Linked DNA regions of Homo sapiens: all the other regions are reported to be linked to region 1. Evidence: microRNA targets listed by miRTarBase, many of them from high-throughput screens and not tested one by one. Region 1 holds a microRNA gene; each other region holds the end of a gene's coding sequence.
The links. The annotated mature microRNA hsa-miR-143-5p reads GGUGCAGUGCUGCAUCUCUGGU and lies in region 1 at 4,804-4,825, shown strand. An mRNA with a match to its seed (bases 2 to 7 or 8) in the 3' UTR can be bound and repressed. Matches are read on the target gene's strand: a 7mer-m8 pairs with bases 2 to 8, a 7mer-A1 pairs with bases 2 to 7 and ends in A, and an 8mer does both.

Region 1 (7,289 bases):
CCAGAGACATTTCCTGAAGACATGGGGAACACAGAGGCAGAAACAGCCCATCCACCCAGGAGCTGTCCCCCACACTGCCGGGAGCCGGCACCCAGAGCCGCCAGGTAAAACTGAGGCCACCTGGTTCAACATCACCTTTCACAGAAGGGGAAGCAGCCACAGAAAGAAGGGCCTCGTTAAGAAGTGGAACCTGGGACCCCCAAGCGGTGTCTCTCATCCTGACTGGGGATCCAGAGTAGGAGGGAGCCTTTGGTGGGGTAAGTGGAATGGGGCGGGGTGGGGGGTGGCCATAGACCCCTCTTCTCAGTAAGGCCCTCATGTGAAGGAGGCAGGGGTTGGGACAAGTGCTAAGTATGCAAGACTCAAGGGAAGAGCTGCTGGAGCCAGGAGAAGCACCTCCCTCCCGGCCCCTCTGCCCCTCCTCATAGCCCAGCTGCACTGACTCCTCCTCCAGGAAGCCTTCTCAGCTTCCCCAGGGGTGGGAACCTTTTTGTCCTCCAGGTGTGCTTGGCTGTCCTTTCTTGGGCTCTCTCTCTCTCTCTCTCCTCATCCCACTTGAGTCTGCCCCCTATTCACCTTGTGAGGGGAATTTTCCTTCTACTCAATCTGACCGAGGTCCTCCAGGTCAAGGACAGCGAGGCTCTCAGTCCCACTTCCCCTTGGCACATAGAAGAGGCAGTGCGCTGAAGGGACAGGTGAAATGATTAGACCCTGCCCCCAAACCAAGGCCTGGCCAATTGGACAGGGCATGAGACATTCAGCGTAGAGGTTAAAACGAGGGCCCTGGGTTAGGAACCCCAGCTCAGTTCTCAGCTCTGTACCCTTGGAAAATTCCCTTCCCATGGAGCTTTGTGGATGCACAAGGACTTGCACAAAGAAAACATTCAATATCCAGGACTATAAAATTCCACAAATGATTGTGCTTATTACATTCATTATCACGATGATTATTCCAGACACAAAGGAACAGAACGAGGCACCAACAGCAAGGGGCAAGCAGATTCAAGGGCCACAGAGGAGATGGAGGCAAACACCTTCCCCTGGTCAGAGGCTGTGCCTCAGCCCTTCTCCCTGCATCAGTTTCTCCTTCAGAAGCATGGGACTACCTCCCATCTAGTTCTCGTTTCTAAACCTAGGGGAGATGCTATCTTTGCTGCAATAATCTTAGCCTACATCTTGGAATGGAAATGGCCTTGGTGGAAATGGTCTTCAACTCCTCTGGTCCAAGCTCAGGCCCTGTGACCCTGGAACAATCCCCTTCCTGGTCCTCCATGTAGGAGCAATAACATTCCCTTGCCAGCAGCACCAGCCATTCTGATGATTAAATGGTATCGGACTCTGTTTTCCAAACTCAGTCATTCAGATGCCCCCTATTTTATTTCTTCCATGTCTGCAAATGATTATAATATTTTTAAATGTAGGATGAGTCCTTTTTATTACACATAGAAATAGCTACTGTAAATAGCAAACTCTAACACTGTGCCTAATTAGGAAATAAAGGTAACCATAAATACAGTAAAAATGAAACAATGTTATTATGGTTTAACCTGATAGTGTGGCTTGCAAGGCCCTGGGCCTGAAGCCTGGGCAATAAGTGAGAGTTAGAAAGGTGTCAAAGACATGATAGCAGCAAACTGAGGCTTTGTACCCCACGGTAAATAGGACTGAAAGCAAATTCACAGGGAGCAACTGATCCATTCCACAACAGAATGCTCCCTGTCAATTCGCTTTCCATTCTGTTGTGTCCTGTCTCCCAGCAGAGACTACAAACTCCCCAAAACCACTTACCCACCAGCTGCACGTGAGAAGCCAAAGGTAGTTTATGTGAAAGGGCTTTGGAAATAATCACGCACCAAGTGAAGGCAGAGGACACACCTTGTCAGCTTAGTTCTCAGCAGCAAATCATCTCTTTTCCAGGATAACCCTCCCTGATTCTTATTGAAATCTCTTTGCTGACCACACTAAGCTCTTCTCTCTCAGGGGCAGTGGGAGCCGTGGAGAGTGGAATAGACCAGCTGTCTGTGACCTGCGAGGGAGTCCAATGTCGGAATCACTCCCCAGCCAAATGCACGGTTTTAAAAAATCTATTTATTTATTTATGTAGAGACCAGGCTATGAGACTGGCTAATTTTTCGTATTTTTGGATAGAGACAGGATTTCATCGTGTTGCCCAGGCTGGTCTTGAACTCCTGGGCTCAAGCGATCCACCTGCCTCGGCTTCCCAAAGTGCTCAGGATTACAGGCGTGAGCCACTGTGCCCAGCCACCAAATGCAGTTGAAAAGAGTTTCTGCAAGATAATTCCACAGAAGAGGAAAGCAGTTATCTGGCTGGGAATACCTTAGACAGAGGCTGTCCTCTACACAGGCTGTCAGAACTGACCTACTGACCTGCCTGCTGGCATGATAGACCAGAGGGAAACACTCTTTCCACTCTTCCCAGACTGAGTGTAAGAGACAGACTTTTTTTTTTTTTTTTGAGACGGAGTCTCACTCTGTCACCCAGGCTGGAGTGCAATGGCAAGATCTCGGCTCACTGCAACCTCCACCTCCCCGGGTTCAAACCATTCTCCTGCCTCAGCCTCCCAGGTAGCTGGGATTACAGGCTCCCGCCACCACGCCTGGCTAATTTTTGTATTTTTAGTAGAGACAGGGTTTCACCATGTTGGCCGGGCTGGTCTCGAACTCCCAACCTCAGGTGATCCGCCTACCTTGGCCTCCCAAAGGGTTGGGATTACAGGTGTAAGCCACTGCTCCCAGCCTTTTTTTTTTTTTTTATTAGAGACAAGGGCTCCCCATGTTGCCCAGGCTGATCTTGAACTCTAGGCTCAAGCGATCCTCCTGCCTGAGCCTCCCAAAGTGCTAGGATTACAGGCATGAGCACTGCTCCCAGCTCTGTTTTTGTTTTTTTAAGGAGGTATATTTTTTCTGTTCTCTCTCAGCCCTGAAGAAAGGCTACCCATCCCCTTCAGACATTCCTGAAAATATATGTCATCCAACATCAAGGCCACCACAGTGACCACTAAGCAATGCAAGAAGGTCCTCTGGGGTGCCCTGAGATCTTGGCAGGGCAGGAAGAGTGAGAAGGGGCTTTGCCTGCTCACCTGAAAGTTCCCACCCAAGCCGGGCCCAGAAAACAAAATGAATTATCTACATGGTCATCCAATCAGCCACCAAATGGCATTACCTAGGTCCATCATCATGTACCAAGCCACAGGTCAGACCCAGGGCCCCCCAAATTAACAAGACACAGGCACTGTCCTCAGGAAGTGGAGATCTAGCCAGGTCAGACCCACACACAAATAACACTGATACTAGAGATAATGAGATTGGGAATTATGATTCAGCCATTCAACCTGGGCTTATGTGGCATCTACACCACCTGGCCCTGATTTCAGTAGTGAGCACAGTTGACAGGGTCCCTTCCCTTCACAGGTGAGCCATGTAGTCCACAAGTGGAGGTGGTCGTAAGTGAAAACCACATTACCAGCATGGTAAAGGGTTAGAAAGAGGGCACCGGGTGGGCGAGAACATGAAGCAGGGGGTGCTGATGGCTAAAGAAGTAAAGGAGGGGCTGGGCACTGTGGTTCATGCCTATAATCCCAGCACTTTGGGAGACCAAGGCGGGTGGATCACCTGAGGTCAGGAGTTCTAGACCAGCCTGGGCAACGTGGTGAAACCCTGTCTCTACTAAAAATACAAAAATTAGCCAGGCATGGTGGTGCACGCCTGTAGTCCCAGCTACTTGGGAGGCTGGGGCATGAGAATTGCTTTAACCCGGAAGGTGGAGTTTGCAGTGAGCCGAGATCGTGTCACTGCACTCCAGCCTGGGCGACAGAGGGAGACTCTGTCTCAAAAAAAAAAAAAAGTCAAGGAGGGTTTCCCAGAGTGGCCACTTGATTAGAGACCTAGCACAGGAGGAAGAGATGGGCAGGGAGAGTGACGGGGAGCAGCACAGTCCCTGGGAGCCCGAAGTGGGTGGGCACAGGGCTCCCTAGGAGAATGGAAGGACATCTATGAGCTGTAGCCCAAGAGGAAGAGGTCACTGGGGCTAGATGCGGCAGACCCTCGCAGGCTTTGGGAAGGGCTTCAGAATTCAGCCTGAGGGCAATGGGGAGCCCTTTTGGGATATTAAACTTGAGTAAGATATGAGCATATTTGCATCTTGAAAAATCATTATGGGAAGATGGCTGGGAAGAGAGGAGGAGTGGCAGAAGAAAGATAGGTTGGAGACAATTGATTGCTCGATGATATAAAATGTTAAGTACCATGAATGATGCTGTTAGGCTGGAATGCGCCAAGCATAAAGGTGGGGCATGGCATCAAAAGGTAGGTCAACATATTAAATAATTCCATGTATTGAAATATCCAGAAAATATATAGACAGATCTATAGAGATAGAAACTGGTCTGCCCAGGACTAGGGGTTGTCTAAGGATAAGGAGCTTCTTTTTTGGATGGTGAAATAACCTAAAATATATTGTGCCATTGTTTGCACAACTTTGTGAATATATTAAAAACCTGTTAATTGTACTCACTAAATGTCCTCCTTCTAAATTAAGCTGTTCTTGACAAGAAAAGGAAAGAAACAAAGAAAAGAAGAGAAAAAAGGTCAAGGTTTGGTCCTGGGTGCTCAAATGGCAGGCCACAGACAGGAAACACAGTTGTGAGGAATTACAACAGCCTCCCGGCCAGAGCTGGAGAGGTGGAGCCCAGGTCCCCTCTAACACCCCTTCTCCTGGCCAGGTTGGAGTCCCGCCACAGGCCACCAGAGCGGAGCAGCGCAGCGCCCTGTCTCCCAGCCTGAGGTGCAGTGCTGCATCTCTGGTCAGTTGGGAGTCTGAGATGAAGCACTGTAGCTCAGGAAGAGAGAAGTTGTTCTGCAGCCATCAGCCTGGAAGTGGTAAGTGCTGGGGGGTTGTGGGGGGCCATAACAGGAAGGACAGAGTGTTTCCAGACTCCATACTATCAGCCACTTGTGATGCTGGGGAAGTTCCTCTACACAAGTTCCCCTGGTGCCACGATCTGCTTCACGAGTCTGGGCATGTCCTGACTCCTCTGTGTACCCCAGTGTGTCCATCTTAGCATGAGGCGTTAGCATTTCCCCAGCACCCTGCCTCTGCTTTCTCTTTCTGAGCCCATGGCAGACACAGCTAATCAGTAAAGGCATATATTCTTTTTTTTTTGAGACACAGTCTCACTCCATCACCCAGGCTGGAGTGCAGTGGCATAATCTCAGCTCACTGCAACCTCCTCCTCCCAGGGTCAAGCAATTCTCGTGCCTCAGCCTCCCAAGTAGCTGAGATTACAGGTGTGCGCCACCACACCTGGCTAATTTTTGTATTTTTAGTAGAGATGGGGTTTCACTATGTTGGCCAGGCTGGTCTCAAACTCCTGACTTCAGGTGATCTGCCCGCCTCGGCCTCCCAAAGTGCTGGGATTACAGGCATGAGCCTCCACGCCCCGCCAGGCATCCATTCTTGAAGTGCTCAGATGCAGCTTCAGAATCCTCAACAATGAGCCCTGGAAAGCCACTAGTACTGATTCACAGCTGAAACTCATTCATCATTTGTGGATCAAACAATTCCTAAAAACCCTTTCAGCCCTGAAGATAAAAATTCTGGCCTTTGAGTCAGGGTCTTCACTCTGTACTTCTAACCTTGGCTCCGGGGTATTGCCGAAACCAGTCCAGGCACGTCACAAATGTCTGACTTCTCCCAGAGGCTTCAGAAGCACAATGAGCAGCAGAGGAGAGCCATGGAGCCAAGCACAGTCTCATTTAACCTCCCCAAAAGCTTGGGAAGTGGGTGGTGTTATAGCCCCATTTTACAGATGAGAAAAACTGAGGCTTATTTAAGCAGCTCACCTAAAGTCACATATTGATTGTGCTGAGCTGAGATTGTACCCTAATCTGCCTTCAAATCCATGTTTTTACCCATTGCATGTGATTATGGAACCTGGGACCGAGGAGCAGGAGGAGAACATTCTAAATTCTGCTCCCATCTTGTCTTTACATCTCAGGTCACTTTTAGCAAAGACAGACCCGGACACTTGCCATTAATACTACAGGCTTCCTTCCTCCTACCCCCTTCCCCCAATCTTATTCATCTCACCTCTCCAGTAGGTCGTGGACTCATGCATTTTATAATTAAAGAAGGCCAAGGCTCAGGGGTTAAGTGACTTACTGGAGGTTATCAGAGAGGAAGTTGCCAAACCCAGGCTAGGAACTGAATGGTTGGTTTAAATCCACCCCTCTGGCAGGAGACTGGGGAATACACATGAGCCGTGCAGACAGCAGAGGGCAGTCCTGGGGGTGGGGGCGCCAGAGGGTTTCCGGTACTTTTCAGGGCAATTGAAGTTCCGGTCACTACTCCCCCCCAGAGCAATAAGCCACATCCGGCGACGTGTGGCACCCCACCCTGGCTGCTACAGATGGGGCTGGATGCAGAAGAGAACTCCAGCTGGTCCTTAGGGACACGGCGGCCTTGGCGCTGAAGGCCACTCGCTCCCACCTTGTCCTCACGGTCCAGTTTTCCCAGGAATCCCTTAGATGCTAAGATGGGGATTCCTGGAAATACTGTTCTTGAGGTCATGGTTTCACAGCTGGATTTGCCTCCTTCCCACCCCACAGTTGCCCCCCAATGGGGCCTCGGCTGGCTCACAGGATGAGGGTTCAAGAAGAAGGCTGTCCCTGGAGGTAAGAGGGCTTATGAACCATGTTCCAAACCTTTGCGTTGCTTTTCTTTCCATCGTGTCTATTTCATAACATCCCTGTGAGGCTGGATGTGGGAACTTCAGCACTGCCGTACTCTTGGGAAATTTGTCCAAGGCCACCCGGCTGAGCAGCGGTTGAACCAGGACACCATCAGGCATGCGTTTCTTGTCTCCACCACACCCTCAACCCACTTCCCAACGCGCCTTGCGACAGGGGCTGCGGTATTGCATCCACATGACTGATAAACTAGTAAACACACATGAATTCATTTTAAAAGTGTATTCAATCAGTTAGGTAAACTAAAAACCTTAAGTCTTCGTTCGATTTGGAATGCAGCCAGAGAACAAATGGAAAATTTTTCAAGGTAGAGAAGATGAAAACTCAGAACGCCCTCTTGTGGCATCTCTACCCACCCTAGGAACACTATGGCTCTTCCCCTACACATGGTGATTGCTAACCTTGCTACAAGACGTTGGACACACACACACACACACACACACACACACACACACTGAGGTTCCTTTTGCCCCCTCACTTTTGAGCCAGTGACTACTGAAACCCTCTCCATTGTTGCACCA
Region 2 (7,000 bases), not on the chromosome of region 1:
CAACGACGCAGGTGCTGAGAAGGAAGGGGTGGCAGGGATGTGGACCCGAGACGGTGGGAGCAGGAATGGGAGGGGACTAGGCTACTAGGGCCCCACTAGAGAAAGGAGAGGGAAAGGGCTTCTCACTTTCCCTTCCCAGGTCACAGAGTGGCCGAGAGGCAGGGAAAATAGAAGGCAGGCCCAAGGCCTCCAGCTCCACGTCCACCTCTAACATGGTCCCCTCCACAGGATTCCACCTCAACAACCAGCTCTATGACATCATTACCATGCGGTACGCAGACAAACACATGAACATCGACTTTGACAGTTTCATCTGCTGCTTCGTTAGGCTGGAGGGCATGTTCAGTAAGTGGGAGAGGGGGGCTGCCCTCTGCTCTCTTGCAGGGGCAGTTGTGGCAACAGGCATCTCACCTGATAATCTCCAGTCTGCTCCATCCAGGCTGAACAAGGGCCAATGACCTCTTTAGGCCCAGAATGGGATGGCAAAGGGAGGGTTACTGGTGATTCTCTGCCTGCACATCTTTGTGCTGATGAGGGACAGCACTGGGCACATGGTCCTCTGAGGGGAAGTTACAGTAGTAGAGGCGGAGTGCGCCTGTAACTGGCCTCTGGCCTGTGCATTCTTTCACAGGAGCTTTTCATGCATTTGACAAGGATGGAGATGGTATCATCAAGCTCAACGTTCTGGAGGTAAAGCATAGGCACAGCACATTCCCCCTACACATTAAAACTCAAGGTGGAGGGGTCAACGGGGCGGACTGGACCCAGGGTGTGCTCCTCATTTCCACACAGTGGTGGAGGGAAGGGATAGGAACAGAACATGGAGGGAGGCTCAGCAGGCTCCCAGGACACATGCACTTGAGGCCCAAAAGGACCTCTGCTCCCCCAGTCACTTGATGCGGGAAAACATGCACCTTCTTAGGGAAGATCTAGGAGAAAGGAAACAGTAAGCCACTGCTTCTTGGAAAATCTTCTGGGGGTCTGACCTGCTGGGACTGTTCCCTTTCCTCTTGCCCCGTAAGATTCCTAGGGCGGGGGGGGGGGGGGTCACTCTTTTCTGATCTACATTCTGATCTTGGGACTTCTTTCAGTGGCTGCAGCTCACCATGTATGCCTGAACCAGGCTGGCCTCATCCAAAGCCATGCAGGATCACTCAGGATTTCAGTTTCACCCTCTATTTCCAAAGCCATTTACCTCAAAGGACCCAGCAGCTACACCCCTACAGGCTTCCAGGCACCTCATCAGTCATGCTCCTCCTCCATTTTACCCCCTACCCATCCTTGATCGGTCATGCCTAGCCTGACCCTTTAGTAAAGCAATGAGGTAGGAAGAACAAACCCTTGTCCCTTTGCCATGTGGAGGAAAGTGCCTGCCTCTGGTCCGAGCCGCCTCGGTTCTGAAGCGAGTGCTCCTGCTTACCTTGCTCTAGGCTGTCTGCAGAAGCACCTGCCGGTGGCACTCAGCACCTCCTTGTGCTAGAGCCCTCCATCACCTTCACGCTGTCCCACCATGGGCCAGGAACCAAACCAGCACTGGGTTCTACTGCTGTGGGGTAAACTAACTCAGTGGAATAGGGCTGGTTACTTTGGGCTGTCCAACTCATAAGTTTGGCTGCATTTTGAAAAAAGCTGATCTAAATAAAGGCATGTGTATGGCTGGTCCCCTTGTGTTTTGTTGTCTCACATTTAGATATCAGCCATGCATGACTGAATGGCTTCCAATCATATACTCACCTATCACCTACAAGAGAACAATGAAAAACACACACAAAAACAAAATCTTGAATTTTGTAATCATGCCTATTGCTATTTCTTGAGCATAAGAATGGCTCAGATACTTTCCAAGACATAAAAGGAAGGCAGAGGAATAGTTGTTGCTGTAAAAGACATCAAGAATAAATGGGTCATGTACAACGGGAGGGGCCGGTTACCTGAATAATGGAGTGGAGATTGAGCTATCCTAGCTCCTCTGCTCACTAACTGACCTGTCGCATGACCGTGGACAAAACCCTGAACGCAGCTGTTTGTTTGCTAAACTTCTCTGGACCATGGCCTGCGGCATATCTATAGGCATCCTGTGTTTTCCACCCAGTTTCCTTCTTCCTCGCTAAGCCAACGTGGAAAGGGCTGGCCGTGAATATGCAGACAAGGTAACGAAAGTAAACCGTCAATTAGTAAAAGTACTTTATTTTCCTCTTGTATTTGCTTTATATCTTGCTTTACAAAGTTACGAAGTTCACAGCTTTATACCAAAATGTAAGAAGGCTATTTGCTTATAAACATTTTTGCAGTCAGGTGTCATCTGATTTCATTCTTCTAATCCATATTCAATATTAAAAAAATCAGAAACCAAGGGTGCTGGAGCAGCTCTAGGGCATATATTTCTCTTAAATAGGAGAAAGATTTTCAACAGCTTTTCCTCCTTGACCCCCTCCTTTCCCAATTTATTTGGGTCACTACCTTGAATTTAGAGTGAATCTGGGAAATGTAGTCACCAGGTAACCCAGCAGGGCCATATACTTGGGCTTGGAGGTGAGGTTAGAGGTTACTGTCTAATACAGTAGGTCTGGTTTCTATGAGGAGCTCATATCCACTTGCATAAGGAAACCTAGTCTATCCCAAATCACCTCCACCACAACTTCTATTCCTGTCTATTAGACCACTTCTCTTAAACCCGAGGAACCTGATGATTTGGGGGCAGGGATAAAACCATTATTTTATAAATGTGGCAGGTATGGCCTTCGTAATTCTAGAAGCTCCCGTTTAGGTAACAGAAACAAAATTTAGATGTAAGCATAAACTGCAGTTATTTGAGCAAACCAGAGCATATGTGCTGTTCAAATCCCACTTCACAATATACTTCAATCTCACCTCCAATGAATTCTCTTCCATAAAATAAACCATTCCACTAAGTATATACCTACTCCCACCAAATCATCCACATGCCTCATCACTAAAGTTGTCCCTTGTATAATCTACCAGCAAAAAGACAAAATAAAACCTGTGTTAAGCAAATAATCACTTAAACAGTAATAATATTGCCTCTAAATTAAAGGTAAGTCAGGAGCTGAACACTCAACTGTTAACTCTTCTGGGGAAGAAGAAAATTTTTCCCACAAAAGCAGGAGTGCAGTAGTAAGTAATGACTTTCTCTCAGATTCAAGTAACATCAGGTCAAGATAACCTTTGCTGTTAGAGTTTTGTTTGCATGGTGTGGAACTGCTTTATAAACTGAGTAGAGACGTATGCCAAAATTATTTTTAACCTAATTAAAAACTTTCACAGAAAACTTGAAGTGACTGATACTTTATCACAACGAACTGCCATTTAAACACTAGCATAGGTACACAAAAAGATTTATACTATGGTTTTCTTGGCTTTAAGCCATTAGAATTAGACAAAAGCAACCGAGAGTAACATTCTAAAAGTGGCTTCAACTACTTTAAAGACATGAGTCAGTTTTTGTCAGGTCATTTAATGGTTTCTTTCCTTCACAAAGCCACTAAATGCCAGAGTCAACACAGATCCCTGAGCCATAGCTCTTCTCTGAGGGGAAACAGGGTTATAATCAGTCACAACATTGTGGAAGACATTAAAAAAAGAAGGCAAAGTTCTGTATAATTTTCAAGACTCTTGTAAGTAGTAACACACAGCCATAAGCAGCCAAAATGCTTATGGTCCCTTTATTTCTTAATAGAGGGCTAGAACCGTTCATTTGGGGTAACACACTAATCTGGTGTTAAAAGAATTTCATGTGTTCTTGAAACAAAGGCATACTGCCACTGCTTCAAAAAAAGCCTTTGTGAAATGAAGAAAAATATGACAAACACAGGTTCCCACACGTACACATACATACAAAGGAACCTGCACACTTGCACACACACAGGCAGGTATAGGCACACAGTTCCACCAAAGCGAAGTCCAAATCAGAGTTCTTACCGATTCTACCACTCTGTAATACTCTCAGAAGTTCCCACAACTGCCCAACACCTCACCTACCCGTTTCCTGCTGCACAAAGTCTCCTTCACTCTCATCTTTTCGATACATCGTCAGGCAGGGCAGAAGGGCACTACGCCGCAGAGCATTCGAGGCTCTCAGCACACTGCCAGCCAGCGTGAAAATGCGGCTTCACTACAGCCCAGAGAAAAGGGCCAGGTTTAGTCATCGATCCAGATGCATTTTCCCGGGAAATGACCATTCCCAAACCCACAGAACAGTTTGGCTTCTCTGGATATCCTTATAGGAAATAGGGGTGAGAGGTGGGAAAAGCTTCTCAATCTCATACAGAAACAGCACAAATATTTAATACACCTTTTGCAACAAGATCTTCTCTGTTCTCCATTAAGCATCATGTAAATCTCACTAGTGTGGTTAACAAAATGGCTTTCCCCAAGGACAGAAGTCAAGAGCTTGTGGGGCCATATATTATCTAGTACTAGGCCATTCATTATCTCCTAGATTAACTCTTTTTTTTTTTTTTTTGAGGTGGAGTTTCACTCTTGTCGCCCAGGCTGGAGTGCAGTAGTATGATCTTGGCTCACTGCAACTTCTACCTCCAGGGTTCAAGTGATTCTCCTGTCTCAGCCTCCTGAGTAGCTGAGACTACAGGCACATACCACCACACCCAGCTAATTTTTGTATTTTTAATAGAGACGGGGTTTCACTATGTTGGCCAGGCTGGTCTCAAATGCCTGACCTTGAGTGATCCACCCGCCTCGGCCTCCCAAAGAGCTGGGATTACAGGTGTGAGCCACCAGGCCCGGCCTCCTAGATTAATTCTTGACATTTTTTGGATCAAGTAAGAACCACTGGAGCCTTTCCTGGAAAAAAGAACACATACTCAGTCTCACACACAATTTCTGGGGGCTCACAGACCCTCTTGAAGCCTATCCATAAACCCCCTGGTGAAGTCCCCCTGCCCGATAGCCTGAGGGAAGACATGTGAGTGGATATATGTGCACTAACAGGGGCGAAGACAGACCTGGATGGTCTGCAATCCCAGAGAGCATGAGGCACCATGTCCCAAAGCTTGGTATGTGGCCCTGGGCTCCTCCCCCAATTTTATCTCTCTGAAGAAGCTGAGTTTTTTTTTTTTTTTTTGAGACGGAGTCTCACTCTGTCACCAGGCTGGAGTGCAGTGGCACGATCTCAGCTTACTGCAATCTCTGCCTCCCGGGTTCAAGCGATTCTCCTGCCTCAGCCTCCTGAGCAGCTGGGATTACAGGCGCCCACCACGCCCGGCTTTTTGTATTTTTAGTAGAGACGGGGTTTTGCCATGTTGGCCAGGCTGGTCTGCAACTCCTAGCCTCAGGTGATCTGCCTGCCTCAGCCTCCCAAAGTGCTGGGATTACAGGCGTGAGCCACCACGCCCGGCCACGTTCTGAGTTTTGAGGATCCAGAAACAAAAGGCTGGAAAGCGACACTTCTACAGGTTTACTGATGAGTCCGGAGAAAATCCAAAAACAAAGCCCCACTGAGGGTTTGTGAATTTGGCTGTTCTCAGTGGCCAGGCAGAGTCTCTGCTCCACTCTTCTTTCCCAGCTAGCAGGGAAGTGAAGGCAAAGAACTGTCTCAGAAACAAGTCTCTAGGAAGTCTGCTTGAGGTCCTGAAAACTGTATTCAGATGCTTTATTCTAACCCCCTCTCCCCCACCATCTTAGTTGCTGCAGGGGGGTGGAAAACACCCCGTGAGCCCAGAGGAATATTCGATGGCTGCCATCGGTCTAGGCACGGCCATACAGTGGGAGAGATGGAGGCTGGCAACTGAACAAACCAAAAGGGTTCAAACCAACATTAGGCTTGCAGGGTCAGACACTAGAAAGGAAGATAAAGGTACACCTCCAGTTCAACAGCCTGACAGGATCTGTAACAGGTAGTGCCCAGGTTCAACAGCAGATGTAAAGGTAGACGTTAGGTCTACGCACTGCCTCACACTGAGCTTTCTATCCACATTTACAGAGATTTACTAGAAGTGGTGTCTGTAAGGACTTGTCACTATGTGATTTGCTTCCTGAATTCCTAAAAGATAGTCAGCAGAGCAGCCACTGTTTGTCAAAAATCTACTGTGTCCTTTAGCACTTAAAGCCAGCTCTATCTATAAAGCAAGAAAACAGTGACACACACTGCACATAATTGTTAAGAAAGAAAACTATTTGCTTCCAGTTTAAATACCCAGCTATTACAAATGGAGAAATTAAAACTGATCCTCAAAGTCTGGCACTTAAACAAACTTGTACTTAAAAGCCTGACTATAGGTTTAAACCATCATAAGAACATAAATTAAAAATTGCAAACTGAAATCAATAAAATATACATATGATTAGGGTCAAACTGGGTAACCAATTAGGATCTGTATCTTCAATAAACATCTGGAGAACGCAAATAGCATATATCACTATATGCCATGCTGTCCCAGAGAAGTATGGTTCCTTAACATTTGTCTAAATCTATTTAAAACCTCCAGCAAGAACTTAAAAGTGTAATTTATCATCCCATAGAGCTGCCCAGACTTATGCTAGGGGTATGCCTGGCTAGTAACCACTTTCTCCTTCCTTACTTCACCAAGAAAGGGAAGAGAGTGGCCTGTGTGGGGGGCCAATGTGAAAATAGTTCAACTAATGACTTCCCAACGTGGGAGGCAAAAAACTTCATGAATCAATTTTGCTGTCATCTTCAGCATGTCGTTCAATATGTCCTGCAGCATCCTAGGAATGAAGGGAAAAGGGCCCATGAGAGAGAAGTCGATAGTAAGACAGGAGAAAGTCAAAGCCAAGGAAAGCCATGTGGGTCCATTCCACCTAGGATCCAGACAGGAAAGGCAGTTAGGAGCCAGCACTTTGCTAACTTACGTGAAACCATGTACTTAAAGGTGAGCTGTTGTCTCAGCACAAGAGCACTGTAATAAATCTCCAGGTTCAGTTACTGGATTTGAAACATCTGAAAACATTCTCTTTAGGCCCTTTCTCAAAAATGACCTAATTCTTCATTTGCAACTTCATT
Region 3 (7,289 bases), not on the chromosome of region 1:
ATATTAATGAGAGGAAAGGACGACTGAAGACACAGTAGCAAAGCTCATCACTGTGACTTGTTAGGAGCACTCATTCTCTACACCCCCTTCCCATAACTCCTACCTACCTCTTTTGGTTTTTAATTAGGACATTCACTTGCATTTAAAAATACCTGCAAGATCCCCCCATCCCCCATATCTCCACTGTCTACTTCTCGTTCTTCTTAGATGACGTGCTGCTCTCGCCTCTTCCTTCGCTTTCTCTTGCACCGCAACACTTAGTTATTATCCATGCCACGGACCTTCAAGATACCTCTGTGCAAGGGCAGACTGAAGACCGAGCAAATGGCATGGAAAACAGGACACCTCAGATGGACGGCGCGGCGGTCCTTGGTGACAGAGCACTGCTCTTTAACACATGCTGTAGTAATGACATGATCGCCTTCTGTCCGGGGCCTTCACTTCGAAATAGAGCACTAAGATCGGGGAGGAAAACCATGAGGATGTTGACCCCTGGCTGCTCTGTTTGCTTAAACAGCAGTTACTCACCCCGAATTACCCATAGATAGTGACCAACTGGTCTGAAATCCAGATAGAGTTGCTAATGATCAGCCCTTCCTTCACCCATTCCACTTGTTCTTAAAAATGTATCACTCAGGAAATGCTTTACAGAAAAACTGTGGCAAGACCCTTTGTTGCAGAGGAAAGACCTGCTCTAGCCCCAGAGGATGGCTCCAGCATCCACCTGGGACAGTGGAAACATTGGGCATTAAGACACTTAATAAAAAGGACACTTTAAAAAGAAGGGGGCAGGAAAGATAGAAGGCAGGAGGTGCAGGCACTCAGACAACTGCCCTCGACCCCACCCGGGATGGGCCACGGACAGGTGTCTGCATTGCCCTGAATGCAGCGCTTTTCCTACCCCAGCATAGACGGCGCCCATTTCTGCACTGTTCTAAAACCCCTTCCCTATGCGAGAATCAGTTCTAAGGGAAGGAAGCCCTCTTAGGAGAGGAGGTACTGGGCACACATCTGACAGCTCTGCCACCAGCAGGCAGGCGTCACCCAGCTCAGCACAGCCCCGAGTCCCAGGCTGCAGCCTCCTGTGCTGTTTCAGAGGGGAGGAATGGGTGTGTGGATCTCTGTAACTTCTCACAGTGAGGGAAACGGGGGTTGGATGGTGCTCTAGTGGCCGGCTTTGCCCCGCAGTGCAGTTGCCGGAAGGGAGCAGCCCTGGGATGGCCGACGTTTGTATTAGAAATGTTAGGAAATGTTCCTTCTGGCCTTTCCCAGGGGCTAGAGGGCCACGGTTCCTGACCTGTGTCCTTTCTTTGCCTTCAGGTCCACATTGGCCAACTGTATTCAACTGACAAGCTGATCATTGAGAATCGAGACATGCCCAGGACCTAGCAAGCCGGGGACCAGCCACCAGTGGCGGCCAGGGACCACCTTCAGCATCCACTCTCTGTTTGAGATGGGGGCTCCCAAAACCAGCTTACAATAGCCTTTTGCGCTGCCTGTCCTGTGGGAGCTGATAAACCAAGTCACATTTGCATTCTGTTGCAGGCTTAGTGAAAAAGGACTGCTGTCTTTCCTTGGTTCAAGTGTTAGAATGGAGAGCTGGAGTTCGTTCAGAATAGTGCTGTGTGTTACCACGTCTCCCCTGCACCCCATTCCTACCTTGTAGCTCATGACCATTGTGTATAGCATTTCTACACTTTGTTTCTTGGTCCTTGGCAATAAAAAGAATGATCTCCCTGAGCCTTTGACCCCAGATAAACCCCTCCCAATTAATGCATTTTCATTTCCTACTGATACAAGGCCTGGAGAGGGCTGTTGGGGGCCCTCAGGGAGGGTTCAACTCTGAGACGAGAACTGCCTTGGTGAAGGCAAGTTCAAGCACCACTTGAGACTGGGGGCAGCATGGAGTAGGGCAGGGCTACGGGGATACACGGTGCACCCTGCAACTTATACCTGAGCCCAGTACAACAAAGGTGACGGGTGTGTAGGTACACACCCAGAGATGGAGCACTGCAGATCAGCAACCTCAGCCCCACCTGGGAATTTGCTGGAAATGCAGGCTCAAGCCCCTCCCCACACCTGGTGAATGAGAGAGCCCCAGCCTGACCCAAGCCCAGGGCGACTCCCATACCCTGAAGCCTGGGGCATGCTGGGCAGCACCGGTGCCCAAATCTGGCTGGTGGACAGAAGCACCTGGAGAGTTGGAGAGCTTTTTAAAAAGACATCTCTCAGCACTTCCCTCTCTGCAGATTCTGACTCAGTAAGTGAGGGGTGAGGCACAGTCATTTTTCTCTATTCTGAAGCTCTCCCACTGTTTTCAATGTTTAACCAACTGGGGACCCCTGCTCTTTAAGTATATTACAGGTAATAAAGATATTGTTTGTATGCTTTTATTCTTGGAAACAGATTCATTCCAAACATAGAAAGAACATATTAAATAACTTGCTTGTCATCTGGGGAGTTTACGAGGGACCAGACCTGGCAGAGCGGTTTCTTGTTTCCCTTTGCATACAGTGCTCAGTGGATTTGGTATCTGTGGGTTAAGGTTTGGAACAGGCTCCTATAAATAGCACCGGTCCTGGAATAGCTGCAGCACTGTCACCCCCTCATTTTAACTCCGACGGTCATGGGAGTGAGTACGCACTGTCTGAGCCCGTGTTCTTCTCACCCTCATATGAGAACTCATGTCTTCCAGTCGCTTTTAGAGAGCATAGATTTGCTGCAATGATGCGTTCAAATAGATGTAACGTGTAGCCATTCTATTTGGCAGTACAACTTTTGATTTCAGGATAAAGTCTTTTTTTTTGAGATGGAGTCTCGCTCTGTCACCCAGGCTGGAGTGCAGCGGTGCGATCTTGGCTCACTGCAACCTCCACCTCCTGGGTTCAAGCCATTCTCCTGCCTCAGCCTCCCGAGTAGCTGGGATTACAGGGGCCTGCCACCACGCCCAGCTAATTTTTTGTATTTTTAATAGAGACGGGGTTTCACTATGTTGGCCAGGCTGGTCTTGAACTCCTCGGCCCCCCAAAGTGCTGGTATTACAGGCATGAACCACCACCCCCTGCCAATTTCAGGATAAAGTCCTGAGCATCTGTGAAAATAATGAAGCTCTTAGCAAGTCCCAGATCTCTTACCCTCTAACCAGTTCCTGCCTGGGAGCTGCAGTGTTAGAGCATATGCAAAGCCCTAATTGGGGGAGAGCTGTTCGGTGGACAGTGAACGGAGGTGATGTGGCAAGTATAATCACTCCCTTCAGCTGACTGTCACGGGGCAGAGCCGCCCAGCCCAGCCCTGTGTGTGGCTCTGGCTCAGGTTTTCCACCTTGCATCAGTGCAGTGGAGTTCGTGGTCACTCAGCAGTGAATGCATCCAACCACGCTACTAACGCACGGCACTGCTGATTTATACTTAATTTAAGCAACTGCTACTTGGAACCGAAGTCCAGATTTGAACCTCCGTGCTGAAGGCATCAAATTGCCGGCAAGATAACAGCTCCAGAGGAGACTTCTCCCACTCCCCCAGGTTTTACGCAATGAGGCAGTCCACCCAAACTTAACGTGGGCTGCAGGCTGTAACAGCAGGTTGCTTTTGTGTTCATTAAACTGCATGAATGGGTTTGAACATGCCCAAAGCCTTGCTAATGCAGACTTAATTTTGTAAAATTAACTATGCCTTTGGAATCTGCAGAAAGATACAAATCCGAATTCTGTGGCAGGAAACGCCACAAACAGGCCTTGGTCCTCCACCTTTCAGGTGTATATCTGGCAGGCAGAGCCTGGCACTGGGTACTCCCCAACTGAGATGACCCAATATTGATGCTAGAGCTTCGAATAAAGTGGCATTCCCATGGGGGTGACCCCTGGTGTTTCTCTAGGGAAGTATTCCACCTCCTTGACTATGCACCAACTGAGGGGAATGTGGGCAACTCCAACATCCATCATGGCCAGCCTCACAGAACTCTCTAGAACTTGTGCCTGCTTTGAAGATAGGATCCGGGCTGGGGTCTGGAGATCACTTTGCAGCACTAATATTGAGCAAATGAGAACTACTATCATTAGTTAACTTCCCAGGCAGAACTCATTGGCCGAGCAAGGCTATATCCTAGACTTTCAGAGACAGCTCTGGGCTGGGCTGGCTGTCATGACATAATAGCTGGGAGATCTTGCACGGCCAAGTACAGGGCTGTGTTGTTCTGATGGCTGTTGGAATCTGGATTTTGGAACTGAAAGAATTGGCTAGATTGCTTTAGGTATACTCCGTCCTGCTGCTAACTAAGTAGCAGTGACCTTTAACTCCCTTCATCCACAGCCTCTCCCGTTAATCTCAAGCCCCACCATACAACCCACCATCATCCAGGAGCAAAAGGGACAGGCAGAGGGTGAAGCCTACAAAGATGACAAACATCAGAGCTCACCTAGTCCAACCCTCAAATCTTCAGGTGTTAAAACAAAGAGCCTGAACATCTGCAGATCACGTACAGAGTCAGGGCCTTTCCCCTAAACCCCTTTCACTCATTCATTTATTCACTCAGTATTGACTAAGGCCACCTAGTGCCAGGTGCCAGGTGCCAGGGAGCAACCAGTGAACAAGACAGACGTACCTTCATAAAGCCTGTGTCTAGCAGGGAAATCTGAGAAGAAAATGACAAGTCTTATGAATGTTACAAAGAGGGAAATATGAGTGCTGCCAGAGCCGATGGGACGGGCCAGGGAAGGGCTCCCCAGGGGATATTTACACGTGCAAATTAATGATGAGGATTGGCTGTGTGAAGGTGGGGAGAGGAGCTCTCTAGGCAGGAGGAACAGCACATGCAAAGCCCTTAATTGGGGGAGAGGGTAGTTCCATGCAAAGAACTAAAGGGAGTCTGGGATGGTGGCAGCCAAGGAAGAGGGCTCTTTCCACATCGTGGACGGCCTTGGAGCCTCAGCCTAAGGATGGTGAGCAACTCGGGAGTTTTTAGGCAAGATGAGGTTTTTGTTTTGTTTTGTTTTGTTTTTTTGAGACAGAGTCTCGCTCTGTTGCCCAGGCTGGAGTGCAGTGGCATAATCTCAGCTCACTACAACCTCTGCCTCCCGGGTTCAAGCAATTCTCCTGCCTCAGCCTCCTGAGTAGCTGGGACTACAGGCGCACGCCACCATGCCCAGCTAAGTTTTATATTTTTTAGTAGACACAGGATTTCGCCATGTTGGCCAGGCTGCTCTTGAACTCCTGACCCCAGATGATCCGCCTGCCTCGGCCTCCCAAAGTGCTGGGATTACAGGCGTGAGCCACCGCCCCCGACCGAAGTTTGTATTTTTTAAAAGGTCACATTGTCTGCTTTTGAGGGGATACACTGGGAGAGATGCAGGGAGACCAGCTTTTCGGAGGAGTGGGGGATTGGGTGTGGCATTCCAGGCAAGCGATGGTGACTTCACCAAGAGGCAACAGCTGAACAGAAGCAGAGTCAGCATCACCCTGAGAACTGGCTGGGGTGGGCCGCCATTGAAGGAGGACAGGAAACCTGGAGCAGAGCTGCCCCAGCTGAGCACAGCCCGAGCTCCCCAGCCCACCTGCCGATGCGCGAGAAAGTCCACAGAGTCCCCTAGCCTGGTCTAGCTTAGGTCAGTCATATTCAGCCACCCCTCAGACATGTGCTAAATAATTAACTGTTACATTAGTCACTGAGTTTGGAGGTAGATTATTATGAAGTAACAGCAAACTAATACAGAGAGCATCTCTGTATTAATGTATTAATGTATTACTTTCTCAGGGCCACATAGCAAACCAAAGAGTAGGCAGACAAACGGCCAAAACTGCAGGTCTCCTGTATGGGGACATTTCCACAAATATCTTCAGAATACTGGTCACTCCCTTTAGAGAACAAGTCCTGGAGAAACAGTCGAAACAGTCATCACGTGTCCTACAGATGGAAGGGCTGGCCAACCAGAAAGAAAAGAAAAAGTCGAGTCAGCAGAACTTGGTGATTGATTGGATGAGGAGACCAGGCCTGAGGGCTGCAGGGAGTCTAGGAGGAGTCTCAGGAGCAGGGCCTGAGGAACTAAGAAGGGGCTCTGGCTGAGACCAGACAGGAGCAGCCACTGTCTGGAATTTTGTCCCCACTGCTGACTTCGAACAACCTCAACTTCAAACAGAAAGCCCAGACTCGATGAATTTATCTTTTCTTCAAAGTAGAGAAAGGGTAGCTCTTTTCTTCCCAGGAAATTGTTTATCCATTTAATAATTTTTAAAAATCACTGGAGTTGGGTGTGGTGGCTCATACCTGGTAATCTCAGCACTTTGAGAGGCCGAAGTGGGCAGATCACTTGAGCTCAGGAGTTCGAGACCAGCCTGGGCAACATAGTGAAACCCTGTCTATACAGAAAATACAAAAATTAGCTGGGTGTGGTGGCATGCAACTGTTGTCCTAGCTACTCTGGAGCCTGAGGTGGGAGGATCACTTGAGCCTGGAAGGCGGAGGTTGCAGTGAGCCATGATCGCACCACTGCACTCCAGCCTGGATGACAGAGTGATACCCTGTCTAAAAAAAAAAAAATAACTGGGATAAAACAACTCGAAAGACCCTTATAAAGATTTTACCCGTAACTCTGTAGAGCAAATAACTTCCTGCTTTAGGCAAAGCTCTTTGTGTGTAAGTTCGATTGGAAGAGGAGGGCTGGTGGGGGGAGATTCTCTACTTTGGTCATGAGATTAACATTAAAAGTTTGAGGAAGGTTGCTCTATATATTGGCTGCCTGTTTCTAAGACTGAAAATAAAAGCACAGTAAAATATCAACAAGTATACAGAAAATATACATTTGTAGAAAATTAGCTTTTTTTTTTTTTTTTGCTAAGTACTTCATATAAACTAGTATTTGCTTTCTAGATTAAAGAATATCTCCTCCAGGTGTGGTGGCTCACACCTGTAATCCCAGCACTTTGGGAAGCCGAGGTGGATGGACCACGATGTCAGGAGTTCAAGACCAGCCTGGCCAACATGGTGAAACCCCATCTCTCCTAAAGATACAAAAAAAATTAGCCAGGCGTGGCAGTGGGCGCCTGTAATCCCAGCTACTCAGGAGACTGAGGCAGAGAATTGCTTGAAGCCAGAGGCAGAGGTTGCAATGAGCCGGGATCACGCCACTGAACTCCAGCCTGGGTGACAGAGTGAGACTCTTGTCTCAAAAAAAAAAAAAAAAAAAAAAATATCTCAGATATTGAAGCGAACCTATAAATAACAGCAGAAGCTGAAGAAAAGATAACGGATCAAAAAGCAGAAGGAGAAAGCTTCCCTGTCCCCAAGGACCTGCCCAC

Region 2: the mRNA of ZNF106 is a reported target of hsa-miR-143-5p. Seed matches in the 3' UTR shown: 7mer-m8 at 5,134-5,140, 7mer-m8 at 4,518-4,524 and 7mer-m8 at 3,128-3,134.
Region 3: miRTarBase lists LYRM4 as a target of hsa-miR-143-5p. The part of its 3' UTR that is shown has no 7-base or 8-base seed match.

The regions. Positions count from the first base shown.
Region 1 is chr5:149,424,141-149,431,429 of GRCh38, forward strand. It overlaps MIR143 (microRNA 143), which reads left to right and starts at 4,778; the gene lies at 4,778-4,883. CARMN (cardiac mesoderm enhancer-associated non-coding RNA) reads left to right here. Exons shown (of 5, transcript NR_105060.1): 3 at 1-257; 4 at 4,743-4,899. MIR145 (microRNA 145) reads left to right here and starts at 6,506; the gene lies at 6,506-6,593. RefSeq lists enhancers at 1-1,373, 6,846-7,140.
Region 2 is chr15:42,410,656-42,417,655 of GRCh38, forward strand. ZNF106 (zinc finger protein 106) reads right to left here. Exons shown (of 22, transcript NM_001366845.3): 22 at 2,168-6,705. The coding sequence ends at 6,649. It overlaps CAPN3 (calpain 3), which reads left to right. Exons shown (of 24, transcript NM_000070.3): 21 at 1-11; 22 at 229-345; 23 at 632-690; 24 at 1,092-1,662. The coding sequence ends at 1,118. Among named protein-coding and RNA genes, the nearest start is that of CAPN3, 55 kb to the left of the region's middle.
Region 3 is chr6:5,103,523-5,110,811 of GRCh38, reverse strand. LYRM4 (LYR motif containing 4) reads left to right here. Exons shown (of 3, transcript NM_020408.6): 3 at 1,321-2,393. The coding sequence ends at 1,389. The region is part of intron 3 of LYRM4-AS1 (LYRM4 antisense RNA 1); the gene reads right to left. Among named protein-coding and RNA genes, the nearest start is that of PPP1R3G, 22 kb to the right of the region's middle.